7 linked regions of the Homo sapiens genome follow. The protein of the gene in region 6 purifies or fractionates together with the protein of the main gene of each other region. This does not show direct contact. Each region holds a gene or a part of one and is shown on either strand. Other genes may lie near its edges.

Region 1 (4,385 bases), about 13 Mb from region 6:
TCAAGTTAACATAAAGGATTTTTAATGCTATTCAGTCATACTTAGAAGCATCTATGGACCAACCACCTATTCATGCTCTGAGCTAAAGGAACTAGGAAGACAACATACAGCACTTATCTACATGGGTCTGCAGCTACTGAGCTGACAGCAAGGACTAAAATGGGAGCACTGTAGAGGTGAGTATGGAAATACAAAGGATTCTCTAAGAAATCTTGACTCATGATCATAGTCTACATTCCTGATCCTAGACCTCATTCACTGGGAACAAAATATGGATGTCCATGCTCCACAACCATCCTCACCCCCAAACAAATAGTTCCTGCTCAAAGAACAGGCTTTAAAAAACAAACCAACAAACAAACAAAAAACATTGCTTCTGCTCTGCCTGCAATGGCTTTCTCTGCCATCCTAGCATGACTGCATCCTTCTTGACCTCCAAATTTCAGCTTAACTGTCCCATCTTCAGAAATGCAGTCCCTGCCCTGACTACCCTACTGAAGCTGGACCTTTCATTCTCCAGCATGGCATCCTGATGCTTTCCTCTGTAACTGACCAGAATTTGTATTTATGTATTTGCTGCTTGTCTATTGTCTGTCTCCCTCACTAGACTACTATGTTTACTCTTCTCATCACTGTATCCCTTGGATCATTTCTAGTACTTAGCAGAAGCTTGAATATTTTAGAAAATGTTAACCACTTGTATACAGATTTTTTTTTTTGAGATGGAGTCTCATTCTGTTGCCCAGGCTGGAGTGCAGTGGCGCAATCTCAGCTCACTGCAAGCTCTGCTTCCTGGGTTCACACCATTCTCCTGCCTCAGCCTCCCGAGTAGCTGGGACTACAGGTGCCCACCACCACCTCCAGCTACTTTTTTGTATTTTCAGTAGAGACGGGGTTTCACCATGTTAGCCAGGATGGTCTCGATCTCCTGACCTCGTGATCTGCCCGCCTCGGCCTCCCAAAGTGCTGGGATTACAGGAGTGAGCCACTGAGCCCGGCTGTATGCAGATTTTATTATTGCTCTCACAGGTGGAAACCAAATTATCTATAACCAAGACAGTTTTTTTGAAAAAATATGGATCACAACATATCTAAGTATGTACATACATGGCCACAAATATTATTAATCATATTGTAATAACAGCTTCAGACCTTCTTGGAAAAAGGCCCCAATCATTCATTGAACTCTGGAGGTTTGCAGTCAAGGTCGTTAGTATAGAAAGGACAATAGGAAAATTGGCAAAGATGATTTAAGACCATAGACAATCTAAGCAATAAAAGAGCTCCAATAGGTTTTCTTGTTTGGCACAAGCAAAAAATATATTATTATCATATGACATATGGAAATGAAAGAAAAAAGGGAAAAGCATATGTGCAGAGAGAAAAAAGGGTGCCAGCTCTCCATCCTACAACATTAGCCAACTGACATCTCTCTTTGTCTCTCAAAGGTATTGAAACCTAGGTATTAGCAGATAGCTTTCTACCAACTAACCCTGTCTTTACATCCTGTTTGTACAGGAGAAAAGTGAGATGCACAGCATGGGGGAGGTTCAATACATTCCATTCATAAGTATTTTTTAAAAAGGTACAAAGGGAAAAACATGGTGTTTAAGATTCCTGGCTGATAGAAGTCCAGCAAGTGAGTCTGTAGTACCTGCTTCTCTCAGCACATTGAGATACTCTCCTATTTCAAAGGTGCTAATATTCAGTTCTGAGTAAATACTTACTGAGCATCTATCTATACATACTATCATACAATGATAAATGTACGTATGGTATGATGCCCGCTCTCAAGGATTCCCTGTTGCGATGAGAGAATTCAGACCAGGCAGGGCCCAAATCCCCCACAATGCCTGGCTCATCTCTGGCACTGCTGAATGAGCAGGAAATAAACAAGCAGACAGAACATAAGCAAACACATGATTGCAAGACTGCAGAAAAAACAAATGCTTTGGTAGTTCATAAAAAGAAGAAATTATATCATGTTCTCATTTCCCACCTCTTACTTCTATTGCTAACATTGTGTGATACAGTGAAGCAATAGTAATACAATCATTGATTGATCCTACAAATAAGGACCTCCTATGGTAGGCATTAGAGCTATAGCAAAGAACAAGTCAGACATGGTATCTTCCTTCATGGAGCTTACAATACTCTGGGGAAGTACTTTATCAAAAAGGATGGCAGGGCAATCACTATTCTTAAGTTCTTCTTTGGATAACCCCATGGTTGCCATCTTGAAGATGGGAAATGCAGCCTCACCAAGGGCAAAGAATGAATCTAAGGGCTGAGAAATCCTTATCTATATAGGTCAAAAGGACTCACTTTTCACCTGAACAAATGAAATGGAGTAAAAGATACAGATCTGACTGATGCAAAGAACTACGAAAGTCCTGAGAACTGAATACAAAACATATCACATCCTGGGGACAAATGACTCTTAAAAGGTTCTTTAAATACCATGGTTAATTCTAATGCATACATCTTCATTTGTCACTTATTTTTGAGGATGAATTATTTTAATGCATCAATGAAAACTGAAAATTTTCGCATTGCCAAACACATTTTTATTAGAAAATTAACCATTCAACAACATAACCATGGTCCACACATCTAAACTATTATTATTTACATAATTAACAAAGGAATATTCAAGATACTGTGGTGCTCAACTACGTGCGAAAGTTCATACATTATATCTACTCCCCTTCCTCCTTTCCTCTTCTCTCCTTCTACCACCACCCTTTCCACCACCCACCCTCTGGGCTGGCGAGTCAGAATTAATCACTAGTGCCATTTCACTCCCACAAGACTTCGTGCCATCAGTAGAGGATTTCTCACTCCTTATTATATTTGTGTTTACATATCCGTATTCCCCATTAGATTATGAACCCCTCATGTGGGGTCAGTAACTTTATCATCTCAGGTGCTTGGCATAGCACATGAGACACAGACAAAGCTCCACATTGGTTGAACTGAATTTAATGGACTGTCCTGCATCAGCTGAGCCAATCACAAAAAATTAAATATTAGCAATTTGATAGTATTTGAAGAGAAATATTACCCCCCAAAGTTAAACTAATGCCATTTTCTATTAAAAATTACAATCTTAAATGCCTTCTCAGAGGTACAGTGAGGAAGCAATGTAAGCATATATTATCTAACTTCAAATCACTGGTAGATTTTTATCCCCTAAAGGCATACTTGATAGCTTCTGGCTGAATAACAGATGGATTTTTCTAACAAATGTGAGTGCAAAAGTAGGCATTTCACATGTAAAGATAATCAGTGACTTGAACTTTAGATATACATTCAATCAGTTGGTTAAAATAAGTTAGTTTTGGTTTACAACTAACATTTCTACTCTTGGTTTAATTCTGTAAGTAGAGAAGAAAACAGATAAAAGGCAGAAAATATCTAAGCCAAAGTGTTTCCCATTATTGAAGGTTCTAAAATAGACTTGGGAAGGTCATTTGTCAGAGATATTGTGAAAGATATACAAACATCAAATCAGGAAATTCAATTGAATGCCTTTTAAAGCCCTTTTTATTCCTGATGTTCTGAGATTTTTAAATCACTACACACACACACACACACACACGCACATGCACACACACACGTATGTATAAAACGTCTGCCTGAAATAGACTAGAATAACAACAAAAAAAGCCTTTTGCCTTGGACAAAAATAAAAGCAAATATTTTTCAAAGAAAGACTATATCATTTATTTTCAATGATAAAATTTAGAGTAGGGATTGGAAACTTCAATAATCTCTACATAAGATCTAAGATAATGAATATATGCCAATTGTTCAAGCAAAATTATTTTATTTAGCACCTATGTGCCAGGCAAAATTCCAGGTGCCAGAGATACAGGACTGTGTTCATTTCCTACTGCTGCTGTAACAAATTACCACAAACTTAGTGGTTTAAAACAACATAGATTTATTATCTTATAGTTTTGGAGATTGCAAGTCCAAAACAGGATTAACGGGGCTAAAAACAAGGTGTCAGTAAGCTGCATTCCTTCTGAAGGCTCTAGGAGAGAATCCATTCCTTGCCTTTCCAGCTTCTAGAGGCTGTCCACATTCCTTAGCCCATGGCTGCATCACTCCAATAACTGCTTTAATTGTTATATCTTCTCTAATTCTCATGAATCCCTCTTTCCGTATAAGGACCCTTGTGATTATATGGGGCCCGGTCAGATAATCCAGGATAACCTCCCCATCTCAAGAGCCTTAACTTGGCCGGGCATGGTGGCTCATGCCTGTAATCCTAGCACTTTGGGAGGTCGAGGTGGGCGGATTGCCTGAGCTCAAGAGTTTGAGACCAGCCTGGGCAACACGGTGAAACCCTGTCTCTACTAAAATACAAAAGAAATTAG
Region 2 (4,385 bases), on a different chromosome or scaffold from region 6:
CAGACTCTTAGATCCTCAGACAAACACTGAAATAGCAAACTACCCTATCTACAAAATCCTCTTCTGTGTCAGAGGGCATGATGGAACTCCTGAGAGTGACTGTTTTGCTTTCACTGAAAGTCATTACAATGCAGAGCTCTTCAGAATACACGTCTTCCGGTGTGAAATACAAGAAGCTGTAAGTCCTCAAGAGAAAACTCTCTGCAAATGAAACTTCACCAGTGCCCTCACTAGGTTGAAATGATTATGGTATTTATTATGATCACTCATAAGCCAGATGAAATTCTCTGCTATTGTTTTAGTGATTCTAGCCTCATGGGCCAAAATATAAATTAACTAAAAATTTGATTAACTAGAACTTTGTTACTACTACTAAGAATGTCAGAGGAGATCTGTTGGCTACTTTTGATTGGGTTAAGTAGGCATTCTGGTTCTAACATTGACAGATTTGCAAACCATTCTTTTAAATCAAAACTTGTTAGGACTGTTTTCATTGTAATATCTTCAGATAGTTTCTAACAATTTAGGAAGTGATTTTTAAATTGGATTTATAGTGCTTACAACCATTTCTTTTTTAAAACCCCTTGTCTGGACATTTTTAGTGTTGCTTGCTTTATAGGCCTAACAAATTAGGTAATTTACCAAAAGAAATAAGTGGGATAAAGATAATTATTGCCCTCCAAAGTAGGTAATCTTCCAGCCTTAATAAAGGTATTTTATATCTTTTGATAACAGCCCATTTCCTAACATGTCTGGTTGTAGGTAAGCCGGATACTTTACAGTTTTGCCACTGCCTTCCGCCGTTCTGCCAAGCAGACCCCACTTTCAGCCACTGCTGCACCCCAGACTCCTGACAGTGACATCTTTACCTTCTCTGTGTCTTTAGAAATAAAAGAAGATGATGGTAAAGGTTATTTTAGGTAGGGAATCTTATTTTATTCATGTATTAACATGCTGTGGTTCAGGGGAAATTCTAGGTCAGATTATAACTTTCATACCATAAAATGATGGCTTTTAAAGGGAGGGCTTTTAAAAAAAATCTGGATGATAAAGGCATATAAATACATAAATTTAACAGAGGCAAAGTTTGAAGAATTTTAAAGCAATTAAAAAAATTGTCATATTGGGAACATGTTGCTACCTTCTTTTAGTCAGATACCAAGTGGCTAACTGCTCACAAAAATATGGCCAAACCGCCAGGCGCTGTGGCTCACACCTGTAATCCCAGCTCTTTGGGTGGCTGAGGCGGACGGATCACCTGAGGTCGGGAGTTCGAGATGAGCCTGACCAACATGGAGAAACCTTGTCTCTACTAAAAATACAAAATTAGCCGGGCGTGGTGGTGGGTGCCTGTAATCCCAGCTACTTGGGAGGCTGAGGCAGGAGAATCGCTTGAACCCGGCAGGCAGAGGTTGCAGTGAGCCGAGATCCTGCCACTGCACTCCAGCCTGGGCAACGAGAACGAAACTCCGTCTCAAAAAAAAAAAAAAAAAAAAAAAAAAAATATATATATATATATATATATATATATATATATATATATGGCCAAAGCTTAGTCAGCTGGATTTGTAGCTATATTTGTTTTGCTGATTGTATTTGCTTGTTTTAGTTGGTTGATTTACTTATATTAATAATCTAAAAATCTTAAGCCTTTTCAAGTCAAGTTTTCCCAGTAAAGTTATCTGCATACATTGGAAGGGGAGAAATAAGGTCTGTGTCTGAAGTCTAATCTTTTGTAGGGTTAGAAGTGACTGATTTTAATTTTTAAATATAATGATAATCCTTTGAGTGGTGGAAAGAACCATGGAATAGAAGTCAAAACTTAGCTTTAGTTTAATTATTGTTACTATTAACAGTGTCCCCATTTCCAAGTTTCTTTACATCTGTCAGTAGTTTCCTCATTTATTAAATGAGGTGGCTAGACTCTAAAACCCTTTCTCACTTTAAAATTTTATGGTTGCAAGATGACTTGATGTTTTTAAAATTACAGCCCATGTCCCAAAATGATTGTATTATAATCAGTAATTGCATGTAGAAGTCTGTTTCCTCCATGACTACCTCATTAAATTGGTAAAATGAAGTTATATAAAAATATGAATATTTCTAATATTTTGCTTTTAAATTAAGCACAGTGATTGGTTTATTAGATTATTAGAAAAACTGATAATTTTTAGTCTTTCTTCAGACTTTGGAATTGTCATGCCATCTGGTGGCCAATTTAGTGTACAGTGCAGCTTAAACTTTGAGGAGTAAAGTATGACTCATTGTGCTCTATGCTTTCTAATTAGATAGATTTCTATTCTCTCTCTCTCTTTTTTTTTTTTTTTTGAGATACGCCTCACGCTGTTGCTCAGGCTTGAATGCAATGGTACAAACATGACTCACTGCAGCCTCAGCCTTCTGGTCTCAAGCAGTCCTCCCACCTCGCCCTCCTGAGTAGCTGGGACCACGGATGCATGCCACTATGTCTGGCTAATTTTTTTTTAAGTTTTTCTAGAGATGGGGTCTTGCCACATTGCCCAGGTTGGTCTTGAACTCGTGGTCTCAAGTGATAGTCTCAGCTTGTCAAAGTGTTGGGATTACAGGCATGAGCCAACCATTCCTGACTATTTCTATTCTCAAAGCAATGCTGTGAGGTAGTCCTTCCTGCAATGTACCTTCCTGCCCTGCAAAGTGAAAATTATAATCTGTATAATTTTAAGTAGTTTTTTACCTTGTTAAGCAACCTTTAAACTAAATATATTTTCTTTCTTTTTTTTTTGAGACAGAGCCTTGCTCTGTCACCAAGGCTGGAATGTAGTGGCACGATCACGGTTCACCGCAACCTCTGTCTCCCAGGTTCAAGCAATTCTCATGCCTCAGCCTCCTGAGTAGCTGGGATTACAAGCATCTGCCACCATACCGGGCTAATTTTTTCTATTTTTCAGTAGAGACAGGGTTTCGCCGTGTTGGCCAGGCTGGTCTCAAACTCCCGGCCTCAAGTGATCCATTTACCTGGGCCTCCCAGAGTGCTGGGATTATAGGCATGATTCACCATGCCTGGCCTTTTTTTCTTTATTGAAAATATTTATGTAGTTTTGGTCTGTAAATTCTAATTATTAAATAGGAAAGATTAAGATCCCTCAGAAGTATCAGTATAACTTCCCTTCCTTCTGAAATCAGGCATATTCAAGGTAGAATGATCATAAACATCTCTGTTCTATTTGTTAATACTGACAAAGTGCTATTACAGAAAATCCCTGGATGGTCAGATTTGCTTTTCACATTTGTTAGGACTTTGTTCTCCTTTTGCTACATGGCTTTGCTGAATTTCTGGTTTATAATAAATACTGTTATGTTAACTTAAATATATTATTTAAGTATAATGATCAATATACCTAAATATATTAGGTTAATATATATTATTTAGGTATAATAATAATTATATATTATACATATAAATTATGTAATAGTTATATACCTATTATTATATAAAACCTATTATATACTTACTATTATACCTAAATATTTATTTTATCTAAATATTATACCTAAATAATTATTATACCAAAATAATTATTATACCTAAATATATTAGGTTAACACAACAGTACTTTAGATGTATGAAATCCTAGCAAAATATACCTTGGTTTGTCAGATTTAAACTTGTCAAAGGTAGTTCCTCTTATCCAGTAATTCTGTAATATGTATGGAAATTTATCTGCAGAAATAATCATTGAGGTTTTCAAAGAATTATTATTATGAATGTTCTCCAACATACTGTGTATAATATTAATAGCAAATTTTAAAAGTAGAAATTAAGTGTTGAATAGAGTACTAAAACATGTTGGTTTATGGATATTACTTATCCCCTGTCCAACTCATATTTGTGTATAACACAAGATTTACTGTGGTTTTACTTTAACATAAATATAGACAAAGTATGATGAGAATAATTAATGCTCTTCTCATTTCTGAAAAAGTATAATTTTTAAATTATTATTATTATTATTTTGAGACGGAGTTTTTCCTCTTGTCACTCAGGCTGGAGTGCAATGGCGTGATCTTGGCTCATTGCAACCTCCTTCTCCCGGGTTCAAGTGATTCTACTGCTTCAACCTCCCGAGTAGCTGGAATTATAGGTGCCCACCGCCACGCCTGGCTACTTTTTGTACTTTTAGTAGAGACGGGGTTTCACCATGTTGGCCAGGCTGGTCTCGAACTCCTGACCTCAGGTGATCCACCTGCCTCAGCCTCCCAAATTGCTGGGATTACAGGCGTGAGCCACCATGCCTGGCCAATTTTTAAATTATTATGATTAGAAACCTGCTTCTCCATTTTGCCCATGGGAAAACTGAGCATTTGTTTGTTTGTTGTTGAGACAGGGTCTCACACTTTTTTTTCTT
Region 3 (4,385 bases), on a different chromosome or scaffold from region 6:
ATCCATTATATTTATACGTATTCATGGGGTACATGTGAAATTTTGTTAAATGCACAGAATATATAATCATTAAATCAGAGTATTTACTATCCACAGCCAGGTATTTATCATATATATGTGTTGTGTACATTTCAAGTCTTCTGGCTATTTTGAAAAATATTTATCTTTCCCTGTCTTAGATTTTACTTAACATAATGACCTCCAGCTCCATCCATATTCCTGGAAATGGCGTGATCTTATTCTTTTTTATGGGCATATAGTATTCCATTGTGTATATATACCACATTTATCCATTCATCCTTTGATGGGCACTTAAGTTGATTTCATGTATTTGCTATTGTGAGTAGTGCTGCAATAAACACAGGAGTGTATATATCCCTTTGTTATATTGATTTGTTTTCAATGACTACCAATATTGGGGTTTTTGGATTGTATGGTAGCTCTATTTTTAGTTTTTTGAGAAATCCCCAACTGTTTTCTTTTTTTTGAGACGGAGTCTTGCTCTGTCGCCCAGGCTGTAGTGCAGTGGCATGATCTTGGCTCACTGCAAGCTCTGCCTTCCAGGTTCACACCATTCTTCTGCCTCAGCGTCCTGAGTAGCTGGGACTACAGGCGCCGGCCACCAAGCCTGGCTAATTTTTTGTATTTTTTAGTAGAGATGGGGTTTCACCATATTAGCCAGGATGGTCTCGATCCCCTGACCACTTTGGGAGCCAGCCTCGGCCTCCCAAAGTGTTGGGATTACAGGCGTGAGCCACCGCTCCTGGCCTGAGAAATCCCCAACTGTTTTGTATAGTGACTATGCTTACCTACACTTCCACCAACAGTGTAGAAGAGTTCTTTCTCCACATTGTCATCAATATCTGTTACTTTTTTTCTTCTTAATAGCCATTCCTTATTGTGGTTTTGATTTGCATATCCCTGATGATTAGTGATATTGAGTATTTTATCATATACTTCTTGGCCATTTCTTTGTCTTTTAAGAAATGTCTATTCATGTCCCTTGCCTATTTTTTAATGGGGTTATTTTTTAATGTTGTGTTGTTTGAGTTCCTTGTATACTCTGGGTATTAGTCCCATATTGGATGAGTAGATTGCAAATATTTTGTCCCATTTAAGAGGTTGTCTTCTTCATGCTGTTGATTGTTTCTTTTGCTATGCAGAAGCTTTTTAGCCTATAATCTCAGCATTAAGGGAAGCCATGGCAGGAGGATCACTTGAGCCGAGCAGTTTGAGACCAGCCTGAGAAACATAGCAAGATCCGTTTCTACAAAAAAATATAAATTAGCCAGACATGGTGGAACATGCCTGTAGTCCCATCTTCTTGGGATGCTGAGATAGGAAGATCACTTGATCCCAGGAGGTTGAGGCTGCTGTGAGCCATAATCACACTTACTGCACTCCAGCCTGGGTGACAGAGGGAGCCCTTACATAAAAAAAAAAAAAAAAAAATTTAAGATGCCTTTCAGTTTAATGTAGTCCTATTTGTCTGTTTTTGTTGCCTGGGCTTTTGAGATCTTAGCCATAAAATCTTTGCCTAGACCAATGTCTTGATGCATTTGCCCTGTGTTTTCTTCTTTTAGTTTTACACTTTTGGGTCTTATATAATATAAGTCTTTAATCTATTTTTGTTGATATTTGTATCAACTAAATGGTGAGAGATAGGGACTCACTTTCATTCTTCTGCATATAGTTACCTGGATTTCCTGGCACCGTTTGTTAAGAGGGTGTCGTTTGCCCAGTGTGTGTTCTTAATGGCATTGTCGAAGATCGGTTGTGTATAAATATGAGGATTTATTTTTGGGTTCTCTATTTTGTTCCATTGGTCTGTATGCTTGTTTATATACCAATACTTTGTTGCTTTGGTTTCTATAGCCTCGTAATATGTTTTGAAGTCAAGTAGAATGATGCCGCCGCTTTATTTTTTAACTCAGAATTTCTTTAGCTTTTCTGGCTTTTTTTTTGGTTTCATGAAAACATTAGGATTCTTTTTTCTGTTTCTTTGAAAAATGGTGTTGGTATTTTAATAGGGATTTCATTGAACTGTACATTAGTTTGGATAGTATGATCATTTCAACAATATTTTGTGAGCATGAAATGTCTTCCTGCTTATTTGTGTTCTCTTCAGTTTCTTTCATCTGTGTTTTTGTAGTTTTCATTATAGAGATCTTACACTTCTTTGGCTTTTGTTTGAGCTACTGTAAAAGGTGTTGCCTTCTTGATTTCCTTTTTTAGCTATTTTATTGTTGGTATATAGAAATGCTACTGGTTTTTGTATGTTGAATTTGTATCCAGCAACCTTACTGAATTTATCAGCTCTAAGAATTTTTTGATAGTCTTTTGTCATCTGTAGAGAGGGACAGTTTAACTTCCATGTTTCCAGTTTGGATGTCGTTTATTTCTTTCTCTTGCCTAATTGTTCTGGCTAGGACTGTCAGTCCCATGTTGAATAGTAGTGGTGAAAGTGGGCATCTTTGTCTTCAGTTCTTAGAGGAAAGATTTTCAGCTTTTCCCCATTTTTGTGTGATGTTAATGTGAGTTTGTCATATGTGGCCTTTATTATTTTGAGGTATAATCCTTCTGTGCCTAGTTTGCTAAGAGTTTTTATCCTGAAGGGATGTTGAATTTTATGAATTCCTTTTTCTGCGTCTAGTGAGATGACATACGACTTTTGCCCTTTATTCTGTTGATGTGATATGTCACATTGATTTGCATATATTGAACCATCCTTGCATCCCTCGAATAAATTCATTTGATCATGGTGTATTATCTTTTCAATGTGCTGTTAGATTTGGTTTGCCAGTATTTTGCTGAGGATTTTTGCATTGGTGTTCATCAGGGATATTGGTTGTTGCTTTCTTTTTTTTTTTTTTTTTTTTGCTGTGTCCTTGTCTGGTTTTGGTATCAGGGTAGCACCAGCTTTCTAGAATGAGTTAGGGAAAATTGCCACCTCTTCAGTATTTTGGAGTAGTTTCAGGAGGATTGGTATTAGGTCTTTATACATTTGGTAGAATTCAGTGTGCATCCATCTGGTTCTGGGCTTTTCTTTGTGGGGAGACTTTTTATTACTGATTCGTTCTTGCTACTCATTATTAATTTGTTCAGGTTTTCTATTTTTTCCTGGATTTTTCTTTGATAGGTTGTATGTTTCCAGAAATTTATCCATTTCCTCTAGGTTTTCCAGTTTGTGGGTGCATAGCTGTTCATAATATTCTCTGATGGTCTATTTATTTCTATGAGAATGGTTGTAATGTCTCCTTTTTCATTTCTGATTTTATTTAGGTCTTCTTTTTTGTTGTTGTTAGCCTAACTAGTAGTTTATCAATTTTGTTTATCTTTTTGAAGAACAAGCTTTTCATTTTGTTGATCCTCTGCCTTTTTTAAAAGTCTCTATTTCATTTAGTTCTGCTTTGATCTTTATTAGTCGTTTCCTTCTGCTAATTTTGGGTTTGGCTTTGGCTTGTTCTTTCTGGTTCATTGAGGTAAATCATTAGATTGTTTGAAATCTTTTTACTTTTTGGATGTAGGCGTTTATTGCCATAAACTTAGTATTCATGTCCTGCTTTTGTTGTATCACACAGGTTTTGTGATACAAAAAATCACATAGGTTTTGTGATACAAAAGCACTGCTTTTGTTGTATCACATAGGTTTTGGTATGTTGTAGTTTCCATTTTCATTTGTTCCAAGAAATTTTTTGATTTTCATTTTAATTTCCTTATTGACCCATGGTCATTTGAGACCATGTTATTTAATTTTCATGTATTTCTGTCACTTCCAAAGTTCCCCTTGATACTGATTTCTAATATTCCATTGTAGTTCGAGAACATACTTGATATGATTTTGATTTTTAAAAATTTGTTGAAAATGATTTTGTGGCCTAACATATGGTCTTTTCTGAAGAATGAATGTTTCATGTGCTGTTGAGAAAAATATGTATTCTGCAGCTGTTGGATAAAATGTTCTACAAACATCTGTTAGGTCCATTTGGTCTAAAGTCTGGTTTAAATGCAATGTTTCTTTGTTAATTTTCTGTCTAGATGATCTGTCTAATGCTGAGAGTGGGGTGAGTTTGCCCAGTACGATTGCACTGGAGTCTCTCTCTCTCTAGATCTAGTAATAACTTGCTTTAGGAATCTGGGTGCTCCAGTGTCAGGTTCATATATGTTTAGAATTGTTACATCTTTTTGCTGGTTTGATTCCTTTGCCATTAGATAATGACCTTCTTTGTCTTTTTTTTTTTTTTTTTTTTTTTTTTTTTTTTTACTATTTTTGACTTAAAGTCTGTTTTATCTAAGTATAGCTACTCAGGAGCCTGAGGCAGAAGAATCGCTTGAACCTGGAATGCAGAGGTTGTAGTGAGCGGAGATCACGCCGCTGCCAGGCT
Region 4 (4,385 bases), on a different chromosome or scaffold from region 6:
ACTGTCCAACCCTGCCAGAGCGGAACTGTCTAACCTGCCAGGGCGGCACTGTCTAACCTGCCAGAGCGGCACTGTCTAACCCTGCCAGGGCGGCACTGTCTAACCTGCCAGGGCAGTACTGTCTGTTTGTTTGGTCTTTGATTCAAAAGAATTGCATTTATGGGCTTGTTTATAAATTCACTAAACATTTATTGAATTTTATTGTATTCTAGCCCTGTCCTCAGTGCTTAGGATATTGAGAGGACTAAAATTCAGTCTCTACTTCTTAACTCAGGTTATGAATCAGAATAACCTTGGGAGTTTTCTGAGCATATTCTTATTTTTGGCTTTGCCCATGGAGGTTCTTATTAAGTAGGTATGAGATAGGTCCTAGGGAAATGTCTATTTTAAAAGTTCCACAAGTGATTCTGATGGGCAAGCCTAGCTTGAAAACCATGAAAACCACCATATGACCAACCTGTTCTGTATTGATACTAAGAGTAATGCCAAGAGGTGATATGAGAAAGCATATTTTTCTTCCTGATAACTCTCTTTGATGGGTGGTATATATCCTGAGAGTATCTGGTTTCATTTAATTACATTTGGATTTCAGCTATAGTATTTGCAACTCTAATTTTAAACATACGAACTTGGTGTAATAAGTTCTATGGATTTACCTACCTGCTTTGTAAATAGTAGTGTACATTTTGGTTTTTAAGCTTCAGAAGTGCCCCTAACATAGTATTTCAGAATATATGATATGAGAATATGTGATAAGAGCATATGATTCTTGCTTTGTTATTCAGGCTGGTCTTGAACTCCTGGCCTCAAGTGATCGGCCTGCCTTGGCTTCCCAAGGTGCTAGGATTACAGCGTGAGCTGCTATACCTGGCCAAGGATACACAGTTTTAAAATTTGACACTATAGGCCAGGCACGGTGGCTCACACCTGTAATCCCAGCACTTTGGGAGGCTGAGGTGGGTGGATCACCTGAGGTCAGGAGTTTGAGACCAGCCTGTCCGACATGGTGAAACCCCATCTCTACTAAAAATACAAAAATCATCCGGGTGTGGTGGCATGTGCCTGTAATCCCAGCTACTCTGGAGGCTGAGGCAGGAGAATCGGCTCGAACCCTGGAGGCAGAGGTTGCAGTGAGCCGAGATCGCGCCACTGTACTCCAGCCTGGGCGATAGAGCAAGACTCCGTCTTAAAAAAAAAAAAAAAATGACACTCTAGATGCTAAATTAAAGTATAGTTCTTCTTCCCCAGATAATCTGATAGTGGAGGAAGCAGTGCAGGAGCTGAACTCTTTCCTCGCACAGGAGAATATGAGGCTACAGGAATTGACAGATCTTCTTCAGGAAAAGCATCGCACCATGTCTCAGGAGGTACTTAACCAAAAAGGAGAGATGGCTGTGTCTAGTGGGCTGTGGCAGATGTTGACTTACAATTCTGAGCACCTCAAAGATTACCTTACTCTAGAAGGCCTATCATATCATAGGGGATTTTGTAAAACACAACACAACTCCAAACCTCCAAATAATGAATTACCCTAAATATAAAAGACTGTATAGTGTTATTGAGGAATGGCGTGGTAGAAATTCCACAGGGAATGGGGAAGTAGAAACTACTGTATTGATGATGTCCTAGGAATTTGAGGAATGTCAATTTTCAGTCTAAACTTGGGTGCAAATAATGCCATGATTAAACCATGCCAAGATTTGGACATTTATTTATTTACACAAAATGATCAAGATAAAGTGATGATAGGCCTTAAATGACTTTTCTGATACTTCTGATGATCATTTTGATTTAGTTCAAAATATATTCTACTGGAATTTGCCCCACCTTAGTTTGGCCACTGAATTCTTATGCTAATTAGTAATTTAGTAGTTGCCATTTACTTAGTGCCTAGAATTTAAGCACTTTATGAATGTTATCTCTAATGGCAAAACAACTCCCATTTTATTGCCAAAGAAACAAATTCAAAGAGGTTAGTGATTATTCTGAGGGCACATAGCTAGAAAGTGATTGAGCTGTGTTGTGACTGTAGGTCTGTTTGACTTCAAAGCTCTTGTTCTTCATATGCCTTTGTTTACTAAACCCCAGTGTTAAGGTCCATGCTGGCCTGGTTGCATGAATATCATCTGGGGAATTTATTAATTCATATGGATTATCCTGGACCTTCAAAGGGGTTAGAATGTAGTAGCCCTTATAAATAAACTGGAGTCTAGTAAGAAAATAGAATATTTTTATCATGTTTTAAGACATTGACTAGGTGCTACCAAGATGGAGAGGTCTTCCTTTTCTAGCCCTTTGACAAATCTCAGATAGTATTACTAACCTGGAGGGCAGTTGTTTGCTAAACTGTGATGTCCTTGTTGGCTCTCATGGCTGGCTGTTGATGCTGCCTGTCAGCTGGGTTAATTGTCTACTGGGATACCTGCAGTTTGCCTCTCCATCATGGTAGTCTCAGGATGGTTGGAATTTTTACATGTTGGCTGACTTCTTCCAGTGAGCATCCCAAGATCACCAGGTAGAACCTTCATGGCCTTTCTGATATAGCCTCAAAATTGTGTAGTGACATTTCCATTGGGTCTCTAAAGTTGACCCAGATTCAAGAGGAGGGAACAAAGATCCCACCTCTTGTTCAGAGGACTTTCAAAGGATTTTTGTGTCATGTTTTAAAACCTAGCACAAAGGGTATATATAGATTAATGTGAACTTGTAATAGTTTAGTAGTTAAAATACTAAATAGTGTTAGCTGGTGTATAGCTCCTAAATAGAGTATCTGACTTTAGATTATAGTATAATCTATACTGTATTGTATCTGACTCTAGATTGCTCTGGGGTGAGCTTAAAAAAGAGTATGGAAGTTTTCTTTTGTTGTGAATGAATGGATTACCTTTTGTGGGACTGTGGAGAGAAATTTGGGGGTAAAAATGGTTTTTTTGAAAAAATATTTATCTTACAAAACAAAAGATACTATTTATTATCTCTTAAAAAATTACAAAATTTTTATGAGTTTGTGGTCTGTCCAGAGAAATGGTGCTTTTCAGAGGTAGAAAAATTGTTGAATCTTAGGTGGTCTTTTCTTTGTGTGAGAGTTCTTATAGACTTTAGACTTAAAGTTTGCATGATTATAACTGACACAGAATTGTTGGAGGAATCCGTGATTTCATTTTTGTAATCATGCATTGGGAAGAGGGTGAAGCATCTTCTATTTGCCTCTTTTCTATAATTACTCATAAGCAAGGGTTAATATTATGGAATTTGGTCTTTTTTTGCTATATGTTTCTGAATGTTTGTCTTTGGGATGTAGTTCTCCAAGTTGCAGAGTAAAGTGGAGACAGCCGAATCACGAGTGTCTGTCCTGGAGTCCATGATTGATGACCTGCAGTGGGATATTGACAAAATTCGAAAGAGGGAACAGCGACTCAACCGACACTTAGCAGAAGTCCTAGAACGGGTCAGTGCTGTTTTATGGCTTGGAGACTAGAATCATTTTAAGGAGTGTTCTCAGGAAGACTCACCTTGGGGCATGGTATTTGAGGAAAAAATCTCATCCTTTGAAGGTACATTGGTTATAGACTGAAATCTTAAGAGTCTCTCACTAAAGAATCTTTGTGTTCTCTGTAGGTGAATTCCAAAGGTTATAAGGTGTATGGAGCGGGGAGCAGTCTGTATGGCGGCACAATCACTATCAATGCTCGGAAGGTAAAATCAGTGACTCAGGACATGTTTTGGACTGTATGTCAGCTTTCATGCTTAGGTACTTAGGACTGTGTTCACAAGTGACATCATGGGGTTTTGCTGGAATAGCGAATCAGTGAAGAAAGGAAGCTTAGAAATGATTTAAGAAGAATACTTATTTATTCTCTATTTTTCTGCTTCTCTGCAGTTTGAGGAAATGAATGCAGAGCTTGAGGAGAACAAAGAGTTGGCTCAGAACCGTCTCTGTGAGCTGGAGAAACTTCGGCAAGACTTTGAGGAGGTCACTACACAAAATGAAAAGCTGAAGGTAGGAACGCATCCCTGAAGGGCAGTAAAATCAGACGTTCTGCTGATCAACTCACGTATATACATAGTTGTGAATCTGCGTATTCATGAGGGATAAGAAAAATGTAGACAAAATCCAACATCCTTTTATGATAAAACTCTTAACAAATTAGGTGTAAAGAAGTGTACCTCAACATAATAAAGGCCATATAAAACAAGCCCACAGCCAACATTATACCCAATGGCGAAAAGTTGAAAGCTTTTCCTTTAAGATCAGGAACAGGATAAAGATGCTCGCTGTCATTACTTTTGTCCTAGCCAGAGTAATTAGGCAAGGATAAGAAATAAAGGCCTCTTAATCAGAAAGGAAGAGGTAAAGTTGTTTCTGTTTATAGATGACATGACTT
Region 5 (4,964 bases), on a different chromosome or scaffold from region 6:
TTCAGGTCCCCAATGTATTCGTCCGTTTTCATGCTGCTGATAAAGACATACCCAAGACTGGGCAACGGACAAAAGAGGTTCAATGGAGTTACAGTTCCACATGGCAGGGGAGGCCTCACAATCATGGTGGAAGGCAAGGAGGAGCAAGTCACTTCTTACATGGATGGTGGCAGGCAAAGAGAGTTTGTGCAGCAAAACTCCCTTTTTTAAAACCATCAGATTTCGTGAGACTTATTCACTATCACGAGAACAGCATGGGAAAGACCCTCCCCCATGATTCAATTACCTCCCACCAGGTTCCTCCCACCACACAGGAATTGTGGGATTTACAATTCAAGATGATATTTGGGTGGGGACACAGCCAAACCGGAAGTAGAGAGAAAACACACTCAAAGTAGAGGGAAGAGCTGTCATTGGATATCATGGCTGTGATCCCCCAAGTTGTGTCCACAGTGCTGGGCAGTGGACAGATCTTTTGGTATGGTTCCCCTAAACTAGTAAGAGACTATGGGAGCAGGGATGTTACGTGTCTCTTCCTGAAGTTTTAAATTAGCCGTCATGGAGAAACCTCAACATGGGAAGGCTGATAACTCCATGCATGTTCTAGCTGATTATTAATTATTCTTATCTTGAGATAAAAATAATGGAATTTATCGGAGGTGGGGAGGGGACCCTGTTCTGATTGATGCCTCTTAAGAGTTTTCGATTATTGAAATTACTGTTTTCTGAAAAGAATCTACTTATTACTTTGGGAGTTTGGCAGGAACAAGGCTGCCTCCTTGATCTTTGGCCCCTCAATTCCCTTACAGGTTACTCGGTAGGATTGCTGTAAGGATTATTGCGGCAATAAAGTTAACACATCCCTTGTTTTTGAACCATTACCAGCTGTGTGACCTTGGGCAAGCCCTTTCACCTCTCAGCTAGTTTCCTCTTATGAAAAATGGGGAATAAATTTAAAACATGAGATATGCAATAAACGATCTAACACCCATGCCTGCTATACGGTTGCCTGCTATACAGTTAAGTATTCAAAAGAGGACGTACCCAGGGGTAGTTACTGTTAGCACAAGTCCTATGGATACTATGAAAAACAGGGACAGACCACCCAGGCTTTCTACAAACGAGTCAGTTTTTTGCCTTTGAAGTTAACCTCTAACCTTGTGAAACGGCGACAGATAAGGACATGGGGTTCAAGAAAACGGGGCATAGTGGAAAATCAGGGGCATTAGCACCCAACGATGTGCGTTGAAACCCTAGTTGTTTTTCTCCTTCCCAGTTGCTGAAATCAGCCCTTCTGGCCGATTCGCGGGGTTCTCACCGGGAAGTTGGGGCTGTCGCGACCGTCCGCGGGGCCTCGGGAGCTCCTGTGGGGCTGGGCCCGGGACCTGTCCCCGGGGAGGCCGCCCAGTTTGGGCGGCCCGGAGCGGGGCGCGCCGCTGGGAAGGGGCCGGGTCGAGGCAGGCAGGCGCCTGGGAGCTGGGGCAGCCCCGGGTGGTCGGGTCGCGCGCCGAGGCGCAGGCCGAGGGCTCGCCCGGGCCTTTGTTGGCCGCCGGAGCGGTCCCTGCACGCGCCGGGAGGATCTCAGCCAGATGTGGCAGCGGGGCGGCGGGGAGCAGGCCGGCGCCCAGAGCTGGGACCCGAGACCGCGGCTCCGCTCCGGACCTCGCCGTGACACCGATGAGCCGGGCCAGCCTCCCGAACGCTCCGCAGGCTGCGTGGCGGCGCCCCTAAGTGACAGTCGCGCGGGCCACTGGTGGGGCGCGGGGCGCGGGGCGCGGGGCCCGCGGGGCCGGCCAATGGCTGGCGGGGTCGGGGCGGCCCGGCGGGGCGGGGCGGGGCGGGCGCTCCAGCGGCGGGGGCGGAGCCGGCGGGGCGGGCGGGGCGGCCCGCAGCGGCGGCGGCAGCGGCGGCGGCGGCTACAGCAGCTCCGCCGGCAGCCGCGGGAGCACGGCGACGCCAGCGGCGGGTGAGGGGCTCGCGGCGGCAGCGGCGGCGCGCGGGGGCGGGAGGGGGCGCGGGGCGGCTGCGCGGAGGGCGCGGGAGTTGGGGGCGGCGCCGGCGGCCGGGCTGGCGGCCCCGGGCTGCGGGAGATCCACCTGCTGGTAAAGGAGCCTACTGCGCCGCGGCCCGGCCGGAGCTCTGTGCGGGGGAGCTGTTGGCGCCTCTGGGCGCGGGGCCGGCTCCGGGAGCGGCTGGGCCTCGGGGGCGGGCGGCGGGGCGCGGGCCGGGCCGTCCTCCCAGCGTCCCTGCCCCGCACCGCGCACCCCTCGGGGTCGCGCGCCCTCTCTGCGGCCGGCTCGGCGCCTGGTGCGTTCCTGGCGCTCCCCGGCGTGGCGGGGCTCGGCGACTTTGGGGGAAAGTGGAGCAAAGTGCTGATCCGGGGGGTGCGGAGGGGGAGGGACAGCTGCCTGTGGGACCCGGGGGCTGCGCGGGAGTCGGCGCTTTCGCGGGGGCCGCGGGGCAGGTGGGCGGGGCCGGACGGTCCGAGGCGCAGGGGCAGGGGCTGCTCCCGAGGGGACCGGCCGTGCAGCCTTCGCAGGGAATTTTCACACAAAGTGAAGGGCTGCGGGGCCCGCGTGAAAGAGCAGCCCCCGTTTCCCCAGGCCTCAGCTCTCTCCGTAATGAGGAAGCTGCAGTAGGACCCTGAGGCTGGGTCTCGGTGACTCCACCAAGTGTGCCAGGTGACATCTCGGAGGCGAGCTTTTCTGAGCTGGCAGTCGAGCCACTTGCACACCCGCCTTTATTCCTCGCAACAGTGTGTTTCTCTGGAGCGGTTTCATTGCCTACATTCCGCATTGGAAAATAGAAGCAGGCACAATGTATGCTTTGAATGCTTTCCACGTATTTTGCTGTTGTGCTTTTGCTGTTGGACAGATTATTTGATAAAAGATAATGACAGTCGTTCGTTGGAACGTAGACTGTAAATTTAGAATAAAAATATGCGTTTTGTGGTTTATGTTTCTTTTTCTGAATGTTTAAAAAACAGTTTGATGAACAGGTTATCTTGACATAGATTTCTTTAACCCACACGTGTAAACCCGAAAACGCACTGGGCGATGACATTACGTAAGCTGTATTAAAGAAAACTACTGACCCGTTTATAAATGGCAAATAAATGAATTTTGCCACAATTGTGGTGTGTAAAGTTATATAGGCTTACGTCATGGATTTTATTGATTCCAGATATCAGGGATTATTGTGCCTTTCATTCTTAAGTCACCTCTACCCTGTCTGTGGGATGCTGATTAAGGAAGATGCCAAACGTTCGGCAAAGTGTTCTCAGCCGTGGACTATATTGAGTATTTCAGAGAACACTTTAAAATAAGTAAAGGTTTTGTATCCAATAATAAAATGAAGACTGAAGCCCTTAAAGGATTGCTAACAAAACAGTCTGATGTCTAGAGTTGAAAGTTCCATTCACCTTTGGGAGGGTGGAGAAATGACTAGCAATTTTAGCCACTACCTTTTTTTGTTGTTGTTAAAGATTCAAACGTGTTAGATTATAGTCTCCGAGAATATTAAGGGGCTAGATTAAAATTTTTGCAAATGTGGACACTAATAAAAATGTGGGTCACCTGTGTCTTACAAGCCAGCCTGTGAATTATGTCTCATAATTGAAGAGTGAGTAGATCCTTGGTTTTACTCTTGTCCGAAGAGTTTCTTCACTTGTGCCGTGCAGTTAAACTTATTAGCTGGGAAACCCTAATTAAAAATGTATGACTACATTCTTACTGAGTAAAACACGCATATTTTTCTTGCAAAATTTCAGGGCTTATTTGCTAGTAGAATTTATTGTAAGTATCTTCAGAGTTTCATAACTTACTGGATCCAGTATTTTTTTTTTTTCATATATTAGGGGTAGTATATCAATAGTTTACTTTGGTTTTAGAGTTCATTTACTTGTCTCTATGCATTTCTACGGAATGTTTTTACAAGCTTTATTTGTATTTAGTAAAACTTTTAAAATATCCTTAACTATATGATGTGCGCTCTACCTCCCCGTTATTATGAATTGAGTGCTTACTCTAATAACCTGTATGCTTTTTAGATCTTTTACTAGAACAAAATTCTTTCTCAAGTAAAATAGGGCTAAGTAGATAGCAGCTGAAAGTTATAAGTATTTTAATATAATGCCACACCGGGATTAATGTTCCAAGTTATATAATTCATAGAATTATCACCCGTGTTTTTATAATCAGAATTCATTATTGGGTGCTTATTGATTTAAGACAATTAGAGCAGTCTTGCTATGAAGTTTTTTTTTTTTTTCAAACTGAGTCTCTGTCACCCAGGCTGGAGTGCAGTGGTGTGATCTCGGCTCACTGCAACCTCTGCCTCCCAGGTTCAAGTAATTCTCCTGCCTCAGCCTCCCGAGTAAGCTGGGATTACAGGCACCTGCCACCACTCCTGGCTAATTTTTGTATTTTTAATAGAGACAGGGTTTCGTCATGTTGGCCAGGCTGGCCTTGAACTCCTGACCTCGGGTAATCTGCCTGCCTCAGCCTCCCAAAGTGCTAGGATTACAGGCATGAGCCACCACACCTGGCCACTGTGAAGATTTTAATTCTAAACTGTAGACGTGGGCATGTTTGATGTTAACTTGTCTTAACTGTAGAAGGTGAATAAGTTCAATCTTAGAGAACAATGATAACTTCTGCATGAGAATATTTTTAGATCTCTTTGTGTTCAGGTAGTAAAAGAGGTTAGGTGCTTCTAGAATATTATGTGGAAGGTAGAGCTGCTGTCTGAGGGTTAACAGGCATAGTTTGGTGGAGGGTTGTGGTGAGGTATTAGCCAAAAGCTACAGGAAGTGGAGATTTGTTTAAAGTTGTATAAACATACACTTTGAAAATTTCCATGAATTTTGCAACTTACTCCTTAGTAGATCAGTGTGTGTTATATAATTTATTTTTTTAATTTACACTTACAGTTGGGTATAATTCTGCAGTTTTACCTGATACTTG
Region 6 (4,385 bases):
TGGACTTCAGCAACTGTGTTTCTCTTAGAACATTTCTCTAGTTTGGAAACCCGGTCTTGAACATGTTCAAGATAGTCCTCTAGCAGCCATACCCACTTGAAACTATTTGGGCCATAGCCACTGTGCTAACTATGGTTATCAGTCAACAGTTCTCAATGAGTATTGCTGCTTGAGATCTTATTACCATTGGTTTTTTTTTTAATTATTATTCTTTATAATGAATATGTGTCTTATTTTAATGTGAATATGTGTCTTATTTTAATGTTTAAGGAATTCCTGGGAGTTAGAGTCCAAGGTCGCACATTAAATGACCATATGGACAAGTTAACCTTAGTTATTTCCATGGCCATAGAGTCATCCCCAAAGTTAGCCAAACATCGACAAATGCGTGTCATTGATATCAGGATGAACTCAGAAAAGAAGGTTTGTATGGGTCTCGCAGATCTAACCTGAAATGCTTAACTATTTCATAGTGAAAGCTAAACCATTTCAGGTTGAAATACCAACAATATGCCCATTTTTTTGCATAGAAGAAACATATTTTAATAACATTCAGTGGTGAATGTTCAAAGAAAGAAAAAAGAATGAGCTGTGTCACACATTAAAGTGTAAAGACAAGAGTTTTGTCATATCCTAGATAATTGAAACTCAAAATTTGCACAAAGCCCTTTTTTTTCGAAGTATTATCAATAGAAATATTTTTACAACAACTTTTCTAGGTACATGTTCTTATCTCCACTTTACAGGTGAGATAATTGAGACACAGGGAGTTTTACACAAGATCACACAGCTTGTGAGTGGTAGAGCTAAAAGTTAAACCTGACAGTCTGACTTCAAAGACCAGGCTCTCAGTCCTTACACTAGGATTGTCTATATTTTGAAAATGATGGTTATGTAAACTAAATTAGATTTTTGAGAAGTTCTTCAAAAGAATTTGTGACCGTCTTTCACTTTTAGTTTATGACATGGAAAATTAAAGACAAGATATTGTGAACCTATTTGTATAGCCTTAAAACTTAAGACAGCTATTAAAAATAGTGTTTATTTATGCAAGTACTATCTTCATATTCCAATACTAATTTTCTTTTCTCAGTTGTCATCTATCCCAGGCCTAGATGATGTCACAGTTGAAGTATCTCCTTTAAATGTCACCAGTGTCACAAATGGAGCACATCCTGAAGCCACTTCAGAGCAACCACAGGTAAGTGAGTTCTAAGAAACGAGCAGATGTTCTTGGTTGAAACTGATAGTGTTAAGCAGCAGGTTGGAAGGAAGAAAAATAAACATGTAAAACTTCTAATAGTAAAATTTTAAAACCTTAACATAGAAAATGAAGTTTGGGAAAAACAAATTAGCTGTGTTATTTTGAAGGGCTTCCTGAAGTTAATACTTTCTTTGCCTGTAAAAAAGAAAATCAGTCTATATAGGACTAGGAAAAAGCTTCAAATAATTATTTTCTTCAAAATAATTAGAAATTTTTCTAGGTTCTTAGAAGAAATGTACTTTTAAAATATTTTATTGTAAAATTTTTAAACATACACAAAAATAGACCTGGATTCACCAGTTTTCACAATTGCTTCATCTATTTTTTTGGTCACTTGCTGAAATTAATTCCAGACATCTTGTCATCTCACCCTGCATAAATTTTTGAGCATCTCTGAAAAGTTTTGACATTTTCTTTTGTAACATTTGCTTATATAAATGCCTTTATCATATACAGTGTAATTAACAATAATTGGCCAGGTGCAGTCACTCAGGCCTGTAATCCCAACACTTTGGGAGGCTGAGGCAGGTGGATTGCTTGAGCTCAGGAGTTCGAGATCAGCCTGGGCAACATGGTAAAACCCTATCTCCACTAAAAATACAAAAATTAGCCAGGTGTGGTGGCACGCACCTGTGGTCTCACTACTCGGGAGGCTGAGGTGGGAGGATCACTTGAGCCCACGAGGCAGAGGTTGCAGTGAACCGAGATTACACTACTGCACTCCAGCCTAGGTGACAGCGCAAGTCCCTGCCTCAAAAATAAAAAATAAATAAATAAATAAAACATTCTCTGGTATTGTCTAACCCCTTGTTACTCAAGTACACGCCATGGACCAACCACATGGGCATCACCTGGCAGCTTGTTAGAATGAAGCATCTCAGGCTCCACCCCAAAACTGCTGATGAGAATCTACATTTTAACAAGACCCCTAGGTGATCTGTAGGCTCTTAAAATTTGAGAGCTACTGATCTTAGAAATACCAGTGTGTTTTTGAAGATGATTCGTTTGAATCAGCATCCCAGTAAAAGCTATACTTTACATTTGGCTCTTAGATCTTAACATTTACTTATGCTTCTGTATGAATTTAAATTTTCTATTACTTTTTATTTCAAAAAATAAAAATTCTTTGTTGTTTGAGAACAATCTCTAGTGTATCTCAGCGAGGTATTAAAATCTAAAACAAAGTAATCATCAAAATGGTGGCCTACCAAAGTAATAATAATAAACAAATAAAACAAACAGATTTATAAATGGAATTCTGCCTTTGTACCTGGAGGCACTTTTCACAGGATATTTTTTAGATCACGATGATGTTGACAGTGATGATAACAGCTAACACTTCAAGAGTGCTTTCTGTGTACCAAGGCATGCACGTTTCTAAGTGCCTTTCATAAACTAATTTAATCTTTACAACAGCCCTATAATGTAAGCACCATATTATCAATCTTAGTTTATAGATGGGTCAAATGAGGTATATAGAGGTTAAGTAACTTGCTGAAGGTCGAAAAGTAACGTAAGAGCTAGAATTTTAACCCAGACAGTCTGGTGCCAAGAGCCCTAGCACTTACCTGCTTCACTACACTATACTACACTACACTACACTGTTTTCAGTACCTGTATTCAATTTATTTAAACATATTGAGGATGCGTGGTATGAGGCCCTGTAGAAAGAGCCATATATTTAGAATATAGTATATATTTGGGTAATAAATTAGATGATCATTTACTTAATTAGATATTATAAAATTTAACATCCATTTATTTAATATAGCAAATTTCATTATGGCCACTCAAATATATAAAATGTGCAAGAGGATATCCAGATGTTGTAGAGGAGTTTAACTTTACATTCTCTCAATTAAATATGACTATCCTCTTTCTAAAATAAAGCGTCTATAAAGAATATTAAGAAAATATTTCCACACTACCTAGTAGTTATTATGTGGTAGATAGAGCTGTCATATATTTCTGTAAGATTTTTAAGTATACCTGTCTAACTTTGATTATTAATTTTTCCAGGTGCTATTATGAATGCCATCTATAATATGCCCTTTAAAATTCTTATGCAGTTGTGTTTGTCCTCACATATTTAATGTCCCAAAAATTGATTACCAGTAATCACAGCTGAATTTCTTAATTTGCTTTGCAAATTCAGAATAACCTGGTATATCTCTGGCAATTTTATTTAAAAATTGTATATGTATTTATTTAGAGGGTTTATGAAGTTCTGTTGGCTTCCAAAGTTTGAAATACTGTGATAAAATTGTGTGTTGATTAGCTTAATAAAATAACTGCTCAGCATGTTCTTAATATTCACATCAACTTCTCATTTATTCATTGTTATTAATTGGTATATTTTATACAAAATATTTTGAAGTGGGCTTAAGTATTGCTTAATCCAGAGTTTTCATTGACATTATAGTCAACTCACTTATCAGACAAAGGAGAATAATGCACTTTTTAAAAAAATCATCTGTTTATCACTCTCTCTAATCTATACATGAGTCAAAGACCCAAGGTTTGTGTACTGATTTTTCTGCAACTTTAATTTCATGGTTCAGATTTCATCATTATTCACAATAGAATATCCAATTGTGCAGAGTGAGATTGATTTGAGAATAAATGAAGGACAGTTGAGAGATATGATAGAGGATTTAATGGGTCATTCAAATAGCAAAGGTGTAATACATTTCATAATTAAACCTTGTTGAGGTCTTGGTTATTAGGCAAAAGTTAACGACTGAGAATTGATATCTGGCCAGGATGTAGTTCATTTGCACCATTTTGCTATTATATGAGTTTAATTTCCATAAATTGTTAAAAAACATACTTGGTTATTGTTTTAATTTTTTATTTAATTAACAGTGTTTTGGAATTTTTGTATTTGTATTATAGATGAATATGTGTGTGTGTGTGTGTATATATATGTATATATATATACTCACTTTGGTAAAACTTAGCAATATCATGTAACAGAAGAAACCTAAAGGATTTTTGGATGTTTATTTGCTTTGTAGTTTTTGACAGATTTAATTTATATTTGAATTATCTGAGGAAAAACTTCAATATGTAATTCACATTCATAGTCTAAAGACTATGAAGATATAAAGATATTGATTTA
Region 7 (4,385 bases), on a different chromosome or scaffold from region 6:
ACCTCCTGAGTTCAATTGATTCTCCTGCCTCAGCCTCCCAAATAGCTGGGATTACAGGGACGTGTCACCACGTCTGGCTAATTTTTGTATTTTTTTAGGGTTTCACCATATTGATCAGGCTGGTCTCGAACTCCTGGCCTCAAGTGATCTGCCCACCTCGGCCTCCCAAAGTGCTGGGATTACAGGCGTGAGCCACCATGCCCGGCTGACTGCTACCATTGCTTTTTTAAAATACTTTTTAAAAATCTAGGATGCTTTAAAATAATTTAATTGAATATACCTTTACAAAATAATTATTTCTGAAAGATTTGGTTTTAGCACTCTTTTACAATCGACCAAGTCAGCTAAAGTTTATTTATTTCTTTCTAAATTTTAATATTAACAATCCTAGCTAAGAGATGGTTTCGGATAGAATGACAAAGCATTGTCATCACTTCATCTCCTTGCTTTTTAAGCTTTTTTGACAACTTTAACAGGTACTTTGACCACAGAGTGCAATCTAAACCTTACTTCAACTTATTTTATAATAAATAAAGGATTTTTCAATTATATAATTAAGTTTTTGGTTAAAAGGACATTAAATTAATTTTTTCATCATTTCCCTGTACCCTATGCGGTTTCTCATTTTGTTAAACTTCTAAGATAGAAGGTACTGTCAGGGATGGGAAATGGATGGGAACCAGGCTTTTTTTTTTTTTTGAAAGACAGGGTCTTACTGTGTCACCTAGGCTGGTGCAATCATGGTTCACTGCAGCTTCGACCTCCGAGGCTCAAGTAATGCCCCTGCCTTAGCCTCCTGAGTAGCTGGGACCACACAGGTGCATGCCACCATACCTAGCTAATTTTATTTTATTTTATTTTTGCAGAAACAGGGTCTCACTCTGTTGCCCAGGCTGGTCTCAAACTCCTGGACTCAAGCAATCCTCCTGCCTTGGCCTTCCAAAGCGCTGGGATTACAGGCATGAGCCACCATACTTGGCCTAAAACTAAGAACTTCTGTTCATCAAAGGACATCATTAAAATGAATGGCAAGCCACTGAGTGGAAGATAGCTGCAAGATATATATTCAACAAAAAACTCCTTAGTATTCTATATTTTTTAAAAAACTCCTACAAATCAGTTTTAAAAAAAGATAATCCAATAGAAAATGGGCAAGGGACTTAAGCACTCACAAAAGACATCAAATGGGCAATAAACAGATGTAAATGCTCAATCTCGTTAGTTATCAGAGAATGTAAATTAAAACCAAAATGAAAGACCACCACCAGAACAGCTGAAATGAAAAAGACTGTTTTCCAGCATATTTACACAGAGTAGAAAAATAAAGACTCTCAAAAATATAGGGCAAAAGCAACTTTCATAAGCTCCTGGTGAGAATTTAAATTTCTACAACCACTCTGGAAAACCATCAGCATTATCTTCTTATGTGTTAAAATGGAGCAGTGATTCTACTCCAAAGTACATACCAACAGAAATGCAGGTACATGTACACCAAAAAAAAGTACAATAATGTTGATGGCAACATAATTCATAGTAGCCAAAACCTGTAGACAACCCAAATGTTTAACTACAATGTTTACATTTAGAAAGCATATTTAAGAGGTAAAACTATTAAAAAAAAAAAAAAAAAGGAAGCAAGCAAATACCAAAAATTCAGGATGGTGGTAATCCTTCAGGGGGAAAGGGAGCACGACAGTGCTAACAGTGTTCCTTTGCTTGACCTGGGAGGATTCACTTCATGATAATTTGCTGACCCGTGCATTTATGTTTTACCTTCTTTTTGTATGTGTGTTACACTTCACAGAAAAAAAGTGGGAAATAATGAGTTTTAATGCCAGCTGCTGGTTACATGGAATAAGTTAAATAAGTTACTTCTCAGTTTCCACTCACCAGCTTGAAAAAATGATGCTATGTTGAACAAATTTATCAAATTATTCTGAAAACTTCAACTATTAAATCCAGAACATATTATCCTCTCAAATTAAGGTTCTCAACAACCATACTTTATAAAGCATAATTGGGAGAATCACTTGAGCCCAGGAGTTCAAGACCAGCCTGAGCAACATAGTGGGACCCCGTCTACGAAAAATTTAAACGTTAGCCAGGCAGGTGGCGTGCGCCTATAGTCCCAGCTACTCAGGAGGCTGAAGTTAGAGGATCACTTGAATCCAGAAGGTCAAGGCTGCAATGTGCAGTGATCGTGCCACCACACTCTAGCCTGGGTGACAGAACCAGACCCTGTCTCAAAAACATACATACATACATACAGACAGACAGACAGACATAAATCATAACTGCTATTTGTGAAAAAAAAAAAAAAAAGACCAATTGTGTTACTAATAAAAACTCTACCTAGGAATTAAATAGCTGACCTGTCAAAAGTTTCCCATTTTGTTATCAACAGCATACATTTTAGATTAGTTTCTTTTGAGAGGTATACTAGAAAAGGAATTCCAAACTTACCTCTCTATTGGGTGTACCTTCATCAAGTTGCTCTGTAAATGAAGATGTCCTGCTCCTCATTCTTGTTGGTGTTGAAGAATTGGAGGACGCCTAGATTTAAAAATTATTGCACAAATTAGCAAGACTATATTGACTAGTGAACTATGAACTAGGTAGTCCTTCTCTCAGTCCATGCCCAAAGAATTCAGTGAAAGAAAGGAAAAGAGCAAAAACACGAAAAGCAGAAAAGGATAACAAATATAATCAACTAGAAAACCCAGGCTACCTACTAGGTCCCTGGCCTAACTCTGCCACCAACTAGAACTATGATCTTAGCTACATGAACTTTTTGAGGACTATGTGTCTCCATATATAAAATAAAGTTGCGATACTAGTGTAAGATGATAATATTAGAGAAAACTGAAGCCAGGTGAGGGGTATATAAAAACTCTCTGCACTATCTTTAGAACTTTTCTATAAACCAAAATTATTCCAAAATTAGAAGTTCATTTAAAAAAAAAAGGCTGGCAATTCAATCTTTAAGATCCCTTCTACCTTCTAGCTCTAACATTCAATAGTATGAAATGCACAGATAAACAGCACTTGCCCACCTAATTAATGGCCTTGCTTTGAGCCTACCTTGAATACCACTGCTAAATACTGAGATGCTATTCCATTTAGCTCTGTAATTGACAGCCTGACTCCTATAACCCTCAGCGCAAAAAAACTCAGGAGAAAGGGCTCAAAATTTAAACTAGAGGTCTGGGGTCTACTCTAAGGTGAGCTAAAAACAACCCTAAAAGTATAAAACCAAAATTTTGAAATCCCCCTACACCCACAGCAAAATAGATCTGAACTCAGATCTATTTTGAGAAATGAATGAGTCATGATATCTTACCTCTTTTTGTAGTCTGCACTTTACAAAAGGCAGTTAATAAATATTTGTCAAATAAATGAATGAATGAATAAACAAATGGAACTCTGGTCTGTGGTATCCGTGCACAAACTGCTGTGGTTAGGGTGGAACTGAGAGGTCGTGAGGAATAGTATACAAATATACACATACTCTATATACACATATATACATCCAGACAGACATATACATATTTAGCTTATGATAAAAGTAACATTTTGCATCAGGATAGACATTCAATAAATGTTGGGACAACTGGCCATCCATATGGGGCAAGACACACAAATCAGATCCTTCATACTTAAGCTATATTAAAGATTTAATTTTTTTTATTGAAATACAAAAAATTCAAGAGTCTATTTCTACAATCTCTGAATGGGAAAGAGATTTTTATGTGAAAAACAAATCAAAGCAGCAGTTTAATTGGGAGGTGAGGAAAAGCATCTACAAATATGACAAAAGTTTAATAACCTTTTTTCTATAAACAGCTCTTATAAGTCCGTAAGTTAGAACTCAGAAAACTTACTAACCCAATCTTCTTTTTATCTGAGACAGGGTAACCTGAGCTCCATCAATGAAACACATGAGACTTCGAGTCATAAGTGAGTGATGTGAAAAAACAGACATACAAATAAAGTTCATCATCTGATGACAATGGAGACAGAACTTCATGCATCCACACAAATATAAGCTGTGAAGTGACAGATGCAATGCTGGTGCCAAGCTGAAGCAGCTGCAACACAGAGTAGTCTCCCCAGTATAACTGGACGTAGCAATCAGCTCAGACTTTTGGGACCTCAGGGAAATTCTGTAGGGTAAAGAGTCTTCAATAAATTATTTTTCTGCTTACCTAGATTGACTTTTTGTTGCTTACAACCAAGAACTCCAACACCTTCTAAAAGATGAACCAGAAAAATCAATACAACAGATGAAATTAGCTATGTGCAGAAGTCACCTTAAGGGATGACATATCCTCTCCCACCAAAGACAAAACAGGAAGAATAAGGACTTAAAAACATGAACAAGAGTA

Evidence for each region.
Region 1: the proteins of WASHC3 (region 6) and POC1B purify together in Homo sapiens (co-immunoprecipitation; 3 studies listed by BioGRID and IntAct, with this or other methods). This does not show direct contact.
Region 2: the proteins of WASHC3 (region 6) and RABGAP1 purify together in Homo sapiens (co-immunoprecipitation; 3 studies listed by BioGRID and IntAct, with this or other methods). This does not show direct contact.
Region 3: the proteins of WASHC3 (region 6) and GCC2 purify together in Homo sapiens (co-immunoprecipitation; 3 studies listed by BioGRID and IntAct, with this or other methods). This does not show direct contact.
Region 4: the proteins of WASHC3 (region 6) and RNF20 purify together in Homo sapiens (co-immunoprecipitation; 3 studies listed by BioGRID and IntAct, with this or other methods). This does not show direct contact.
Region 5: the proteins of WASHC3 (region 6) and MGAT4A purify together in Homo sapiens (affinity purification with mass spectrometry; 2 studies listed by BioGRID and IntAct, with this or other methods). This does not show direct contact.
Region 7: the proteins of WASHC3 (region 6) and GOLGA4 purify together in Homo sapiens (affinity purification with mass spectrometry; 2 studies listed by BioGRID and IntAct, with this or other methods). This does not show direct contact.

Annotation. Positions count from the first base shown.
Region 1 is NC_000012.12:89,427,856-89,432,240, forward strand, and holds part of POC1B (POC1 centriolar protein homolog B), read right to left. Parts: intron 177-4,385; exon of another isoform or gene 1-176.
Region 2 is NC_000009.12:122,989,294-122,993,678, forward strand, and holds part of RABGAP1 (rab GTPase-activating protein 1), read left to right. Parts: intron 1-3; coding exon 4-178; intron 179-762; coding exon 763-920; intron 921-4,385. UniProt on the Homo sapiens protein: May act as a GTPase-activating protein of RAB6A. May play a role in microtubule nucleation by centrosome. May participate in a RAB6A-mediated pathway involved in the metaphase-anaphase transition.
Region 3 is NC_000002.12:108,455,516-108,459,900, forward strand, and holds part of GCC2 (GRIP and coiled-coil domain-containing protein 2), read left to right. Parts: intron 1-4,385. UniProt on the Homo sapiens protein: Golgin which probably tethers transport vesicles to the trans-Golgi network (TGN) and regulates vesicular transport between the endosomes and the Golgi.
Region 4 is NC_000009.12:101,543,519-101,547,903, forward strand, and holds part of RNF20 (E3 ubiquitin-protein ligase BRE1A), read left to right. Parts: intron 1-1,248; coding exon 1,249-1,367; intron 1,368-3,301; coding exon 3,302-3,448; intron 3,449-3,618; coding exon 3,619-3,696; intron 3,697-3,880; coding exon 3,881-4,000; intron 4,001-4,385. UniProt on the Homo sapiens protein: Component of the RNF20/40 E3 ubiquitin-protein ligase complex that mediates monoubiquitination of 'Lys-120' of histone H2B (H2BK120ub1).
Region 5 is NC_000002.12:98,728,050-98,733,013, reverse strand, and holds the start of MGAT4A (alpha-1,3-mannosyl-glycoprotein 4-beta-N-acetylglucosaminyltransferase A), read left to right. Parts: upstream 1-1,881; 5' UTR 1,882-1,966; intron 1,967-4,964.
Region 6 is NC_000012.12:102,040,921-102,045,305, reverse strand, and holds part of WASHC3 (WASH complex subunit 3), read left to right. Parts: intron 1-1,093; coding exon 1,094-1,201; intron 1,202-4,385. UniProt on the Homo sapiens protein: Acts as a component of the WASH core complex that functions as a nucleation-promoting factor (NPF) at the surface of endosomes, where it recruits and activates the Arp2/3 complex to induce actin polymerization, playing a key role in the fission of tubules that serve as transport intermediates during endosome sorting.
Region 7 is NC_000003.12:37,249,563-37,253,947, reverse strand, and holds part of GOLGA4 (golgin subfamily A member 4), read right to left. Parts: intron 4,251-4,385; exon of another isoform or gene 4,206-4,250; intron 2,554-4,205; coding exon 2,464-2,553; intron 1-2,463. UniProt on the Homo sapiens protein: Involved in vesicular trafficking at the Golgi apparatus level. May play a role in delivery of transport vesicles containing GPI-linked proteins from the trans-Golgi network through its interaction with MACF1. Involved in endosome-to-Golgi trafficking.